Homo sapiens: one gene and its partner. The protein of the gene in region 2 purifies or fractionates together with the protein of the main gene of each other region. This does not show direct contact. Each region holds a gene or a part of one and is shown on either strand. Other genes may lie near its edges.

Region 1 (3,500 bases), on a different chromosome or scaffold from region 2:
TTGAATCCCAGAAAAGTTTACCTCTGTGAAATTTAAGTTTTCAGAACCTCTCTTTCCTGTCTGGAAAGATAATTGTTGGTTCTACATACCTCACGTTTTGAGATGGTCAGAAGAGATCATGTTGATCATGTTTTTGAAACTATTTTGTAAATAGTAAAATGTACTTTACAAACAATAACACTTATTATTAATAAGATCTAAATGTAAGTCAACTCCTCCATGAAATGTTTGAAATTATGAACTAGAATTAATTGCCCAGACTTATGATACTTAGATTATATCCTTTATTAGGTTTATGTATGCAGGTGTTGGTCTTTTCAAATAATTTTGAAATTCCTTAAGATTAACAAATGTGTGTTGCCATTGCTATGTCCTATAACACAAGCATTGTTTATTGAAATAAATGGGAAAATTTTAATTTATGTGCAACCTTGAAATCATTATAATTTAAAATTGTTAGACTTTATTATTTAGTAAACTGTTCCCTTATCACATAAACTGAGGACCACATGACTACTAAAATTACATTTTTCTAATTTAGAAAAAAAGCAGCCTCAGTAGATTACTTTATATTGTCATTCCTTTTTCATATGATTGTCGAATATTGAAAAAAAGTTATTTATTATTACAGTTTATCTACTTTTAGACATTTGTGTATATTATTTTTCTCTGAAATATTTTTTTCCACAATGAATAGAATATATAGCCAAGGCACTTATGATCTCAGAAGACACTGCAGTTTATTAGCATACTTAGTTCTGTCACTGTGTAGAATTTTACCTTCTTTTACCATCTGTCCTTTATTCAACAGATACATTATTGCATTTTTGAATGTATTCATCTGCACTGCCTTAGAATTATCTAGAAATTAAGTACTTTATATTTATTTTGTCCTTGTGCTAAATGTGATTTTTATTTCATAAGTTAGAAATGGTAATAAAGTATAGTAGATTATGGTTTTTGGATTCTTAAAAGAATAAACTCTTTCCTTTAGGTCACTGAGTTGGAAAATCGGCTGAAATCTTTTGAGAAAAGGTCGAGAAAATTAAAAGAAGGGAATAAAAAATTAATGAAAGAAAATGATTTTCTGAAATCCCTCTTAAAACAGCAACAAGAAGATACAGAGACCAGAGAAAAAGAGCTAGAACAGATAATAAAGGGGAGTAAAGATGTAGAAAAAGAAAATACTGAACTTCAAGTAAAAATCAGTGAGCTGGAGACAGAAGTCACTTCCCTGAGGAGACAAGTGGCAGAAGCTAATGCATTGAGAAATGAAAATGAAGAGCTGATCAACCCAATGGAGAAATCACACCAGTCAGCAGACAGAGCTAAATCCGAGATGGCCACCATGAAAGTGAGATCTGGACGATATGATTGTAAGACAACTATGACCAAGGTTAAATTTAAAGCTGCGAAGAAAAATTGCTCTGTGGGTCGTCACCACACTGTTCTCAATCATTCCATCAAGGTTATGAGCAATGTGTTTGAGAACCTCAGCAAGGACGGCTGGGAGGATGTGAGTGAAAGCAGGTAAGGCTCTCATTAACTTAGCTCTGTGGTGGGGACACTGCGCATATGTAAAGCACTAGCAAATGGAGATTGAATTTCAACTACTGTCGATTTGGTATTCAGAAAAAATACTGTCAGATCCTTTGAAATATCTTGGGAGGTCTTGTTCTGAGCTTATTGACTGAAATTTGCATGCAAAATTAGCCACAACTGCATGAGTACTTGAATAGGTGCCAGGAAACCCAAAAGAAGGCAATGCTTGATTTCTTTCAGTGATGCTATTTTCATGCAGTCATGAGGCTTGAAATTGACAGTTTGGCAGGTTGATTTAATCTGCTGGCCCTTTGCATATTCACCACTGACAGCTAAGGATTCCCAGGCAAGCCTACTAAGTCGGTTTAGTTATCTTGTGACATACCAACCTGGGAGGAGAAACAATTTTCCCCCTTAATTTAGTTAGATAAATTTTGAATGACCCATTTCAGCTTGTTACCAGATGTCTACAAGCTGTTTAACATCCTTTAAATTAAGAACCATCTTCACTAATTATTTTATGTATGTATTATGCAAAGTCATTGTATTAACTTTAATTGAATGGTGGTTAAAAATTAGTTCTTTAAAGTTATAGCTCTAAAGATTCCTAGTCTTAAGATATGTACCCCTAGTGAACAGCAACAGGAGGATACTAAAAATCTATAATGCTTCTTTCTCTTACCCCTGGCTATACATTCATATATGCACTTGAAACACATCAGTAAAACTGTCAGAGGCCTGTGAACCAGAGCAACTCCATCTTAAATAGGAGCTGGGTAAAATGAGGCTGAAACCTGCTGGGCTGCATTTCCAGATGGTTAAGGCATTCTAAGTCACAGGATGAGATAGGAGGTCAGTACAAAACAAAGGTCATAAAGACCTTGCTGATAAAACAGGTTACGGTAGAGGAGCCAGCCAAAACCCACCAAAACCAAGGTGGCCACAAGAGTGATCTCTGGTTGTCTTCACGGCTACACTCGCACCAGCGCCATGACAGTTTACAAATACCATGGCAACATCAGCAAGTTACCCTATGTGGTCTAAAAAGGGGAGGCATGAATAATACACCCCTAGTTTAGCATATCGTCAAGAAATAACCATAAAAATGGGCAACCAGCACCCCTCAGGGCTACTCTGTCTATGGAATAGCCATTCTTTTATTCCTTTACTTTCTTAAAAAACCTGCTTTCACTTTGCACTGTGGACTCGCCCTGAATTCCTTCTTGTGCAAGATCCAAGAACCCTCTCTTGGGGTCTGGATCAGGACCCTTTCTTGTAACAAAACCACAAAGACGAATGATAGAACACCTCTTTTTTACATCTAGACAGTAGGGAAGTTCAGTGTTGCCATAATTGCTAACAAATTGCCCAATTTGCCATAATTTTAAAAATTCTGCCTTGTTTTATAATGACATATGTCCTTGATTTTCCCTAGTTTTTTATTTTGTTTTGTTTTTAAATCCCTAATAGTGATTCTGTTTTAGATTTGGGATGCCTCCGGATACTTTTCCTAATCACAGACATAGAACTGAAAATTACCTTAAAATGTGGTCCCCAAACTTGTTTGCATATTAGAAGCACCTGGAGGTTTTATAAACATTCCAAAGGTTAGGTCACACCCCAGACAAATTAAATTATAACCTTTGGAGTGGGATACAGGCCTAAGTATTTTTTCAAGTTTCCCTGTTGAATCCAATGTGCAGACAAGTTTGAGAAACACTGTTTTTAAACATCATCTACTCAAGCCCCTTGTCCTCAGGCAGTTAAAGAAACTCAAAAAACATATTCATGAAGGAAAGGCCAAAGGACCAAATCTGCATTCCCATTTCGGTGTTACCGAGGTTCTTCTTTCCTTCTCTCAATAGCAATTAGAGGTAAAAACTTACTTCCCACCCACTAAGCGTTATCTTTATATCTCATTATTCCTCTGTCTTCAAGGAAATTCTAGTGCTAGCTAC
Region 2 (3,500 bases):
GAGCGCTGGAATGGGGTGGGGCAGAAATGGGAAAGAAGTTATTTAAAGTCAGCTGGTGTGGGAAGCAGCAGGGGAGGGAGCTTCTTGAATCTTGTTTTGGTTATTTTTCCCACCGGGAAACTGCCCCTAAATCTGGCATATATGGCTTTTTTGATAGTGTATTGATCACATTCCCTTTTAGGACACTTTAGGTTGTCTGGAGTTTGGAGCCCGTAGGAATATTGAAGAAGTTAGTGAAGAAATGCTATACAGTCATTTGTTGATTAATGAAGGGGGATAAGGTCTGAGACATGTGTCGTTAGGTGATTTATTCATTGTGCAAACACCATAGAGTGTATGGTACTTACACAAACCTAGAGGGTATAGCCTACTAAACACCTAGGCTACAAACTTGTACAGTGTGTTACTGTACTGAATACTGTCAACAATTGTAACACAAATCACCAGGCGATAGGAATTTTTTAGTTCTATTGTAATCTTATGAGGCTACTCTCATATATGCAGCCCCTCATTGACCAAAACATCATTATGCAGTGCATGACCATATTGAGAGTATTCGTTTTTTATTTACTAAAAAATAGTCAAAACTTGAGGAGGAAGAGACAGATGTCACTAGAAAAAGGGAGAAGTCCGGTAAGGGAGAAGTCAGCTTCCTGAGGTGGAATCGTATTACCTTTGGGATTAGGACATTTCATTGTCATTATTCACCAGTGTAAAACACTTTTACATTTTTCTACTATTATTACTAAAAACATTTTTCTACTACTTTACAAATCCTATTCTGGAAGTGGGCTCTACCTAGCTTAGAAGATTGTCATTCAGGAGTAGTATCCCTGATGGTCTTGTTTCGAATTTTGTGTTGTCTTTCCACCTAAGTCAAAAGTGAGGCTGAAGGGGATCGAAGACTCCATTTTTTTCTGGCCCCCAATCTCTTCCCCAGTAACTGTGATATATCTGATATTTATAGCATATGAGTCTTTATCCCTTTGTAGGTCTTTACTTCTTAACTTAGGGATTCTCAACCTTCTCTAAACATAATCACTTAGGGAGCTTTTAAAACCCAAAGTTAGGATGCACCCAAAGCCAGTTAAATCAGAATCCCTGGGGATGCAACCCAGGCGGCAGCATTTAAAAAATACCCAAGTGATTCCAACCTACAGACAAGGATGAGAAAACTCTCCTAAACTCTTGTATAATGACATCGGCATGAAAATGAACTCACCTGAAACTGACCTTCCCAGGACATTAAGTCACTAGTTGGCTGCTTATGGCACTTGCCAGTGTCCAGCAGTTTCCTGGCTGCTCCTGGAGGTTGCCAGACACCCGGTTCCCCCATTCTCAATGTTGGAGGCCCACAGTCTCTGCACTTAGGGGACCAGCTGTAACCTCCCCACCTGACCAGATGAACCGCGGGGAAACAAAGCGAGAAGCTCCCACCTACAGGATGCAAGGACCCAAGCTGGGATTTGTGAGAGTCTCAGCAGAGGCTGTGAGGAACTCCACAGAAAATGAGGCAGGAAAGCAAAAGTTCCTTGTTAGGGCTTGGAGGAGGAGAGGGTTGTCAAGCATGTTTTCTTTATTATTCCCACACATAAGGGAGCTGGCTTTAAGAGCTTTCTGTGACAAACCTGAGGAGAAAAAGCCCTGAGACTTAGAAGGCATTTAAGAATACAGCTCAAGGGGGAAATCGGTGGAGACTGTATCTGCGGTGGTTTTCTCCACCTGTAGCCAGAGGCTCTCTCATAGGGTTCTGTGGCTTTCCTTGGGGTGCCTTTTAAAGGCATCCCAGTCCAGCCCAGGACTGACTGGATTCCAGGAGATCTCAGAGGCTGGTCTGACACCAAAGAAGGCTGTAAAGAGAAGAGACCATTTGGATGACTGTTTTCATGGAAAGTGAGCCCCAGGGAGGCTGGCCTGAGATTACACAGCTGATTATGGGCCTCAGCCTGACTCTTAAAACAATGCTTGTGTATTTCTTAATCGTAGCTATCATTTGAGTTTTTAACTATGTACAAGGTATTGTGCTAAGCGCTTTACAGTCCTTCATAATTCTCATAGCAGCCCCATGGGGAAAGTACTATTATTATTCCCACTTTTACAGATGACGCCCAGAGAAGACAGGTAATGTGTCCGAAGTCACGCAGCAGGAAACTAGGAGCCAGAGTCAACCTAGGAAAACTGCATTTAGAACAGGAGGTCTAACCACTGTGCTCTACACGCGGGTGGTTTTCACTTCGTGAAGTTTTGGGGAATGGGGGTAGTGCTTGGGTTATAATCTTGCGGTTGGGATCAGGCCCTTTAGGGCATATTCCGGCTCCAGACCCGCCGCTCAGCTTCTCTGGCTCCCGGGCATGGGAATCTGGACTCGGGAGCGGAGCGCTCCCGCGGCCAGCAGGAGTCGCTATTGCCCTTAGCAGCCAGCTCCGTTACCCCGGGTCACCACCGCGCCGCGGAGGGGCCCTAGAAGTGGAAGCCAGAGCCCTAGTGCAGTGGCCTCCCGGAGCGCCCAGCTCACCAGGTACCCCCGCAGCGCGCCGGGAGCGCCTTTCTCCCCGCCGCCGCGAGCATGCGCAGTGCCCCCAGCCAGTCCCGGGATCCACGGCGCGCGCCCCTCCCAGCCGCGCGCGCCCGCCTGCGGTTTGTCTGCGCAGCCCTGGAGGCTGCGACTTCCGGACTGCTCCTGGCCGCAGGGGGCGCCGCCATCGCACAGAGAGGCCTGGGCGGGGCGGACCGGCGCTGGGCAGCCAGGACAGCCGCGGCAGCCGGGTCCGCAGGGCAGCAGCCGGCCTCTCCCACTGCAGCCCTCCCGCCCGCCTACCGTCCGGCGCGATGGCGGGGAGTAGCTCGCTGGAGGCGGTGCGCAGGAAGATCCGGAGCCTGCAGGAGCAGGCGGACGCCGCTGAGGAGCGCGCGGGCACCCTGCAGCGCGAGCTGGACCACGAGAGGAAGCTGAGGGAGACCGTAAGGGATACACCCATCACCCCGCAGCCCCCAGAGGCGCATCCTCCCGGGGCAGCCCCGCAGGGCCCTCCTGCTTCCCCCCCCGCAGGCCCCGGTCCCTCGTCCCCACGCCTCCAGGGCGCACCTGGCGCACCTGGGCCAGCTGGCGGCGGGCTCTGGGGAGGGGCCCGGCCTGTTCTCCTGAGCCTTTGTTTTCCATCTCGCTGATCCAAAGTAAACGCTCCCAGGGGAAACGGGTGGTGTTGAGAAGGTTCTGGAAGGAGCATTTTCCCAGGAAGGGTCTGTTTCTGGGGTGGTGGCTTTCAGTCGTGTCTGTGCGTCCCCGGGAGGTGCACTTTGCGCTGCTGGCTTGCTTTACTCTGAGAGTGGAGAGGGAGGAGGTCCTTCCTCTTGGAGATCCGTACTTTGAGAAGGGGCGCCGACAGGTCAAGTGGGAGAGGCACTGTGGACTTGGGGCCCGGGGATGCTACACTCCGCCGTTCCCGTCGACCCTGTGGTTTCCCGGCGGCCTGTGTCTCCGAGGCGGTAGACAGACATTG

The links. The genes of interacting proteins can lie anywhere in the genome.
Region 1: the proteins of TPM1 (region 2) and CNTLN purify together in Homo sapiens (affinity purification with mass spectrometry; 3 studies listed by BioGRID and IntAct, with this or other methods). This does not show direct contact.

The regions. Positions count from the first base shown.
Region 1 is NC_000009.12:17,393,540-17,397,039, forward strand, and holds part of CNTLN (centlein), read left to right. Parts: intron 1-994; coding exon 995-1,530; intron 1,531-3,500. UniProt on the Homo sapiens protein: Required for centrosome cohesion and recruitment of CEP68 to centrosomes.
Region 2 is NC_000015.10:63,045,747-63,049,246, forward strand, and holds part of TPM1 (tropomyosin alpha-1 chain), read left to right. Parts: intron 1-287; exon of another isoform or gene 288-2,829; coding exon of another isoform or gene 2,830-2,961; intron 2,962-3,094; exon of another isoform or gene 3,095-3,500. UniProt on the Homo sapiens protein: Binds to actin filaments in muscle and non-muscle cells. Plays a central role, in association with the troponin complex, in the calcium dependent regulation of vertebrate striated muscle contraction.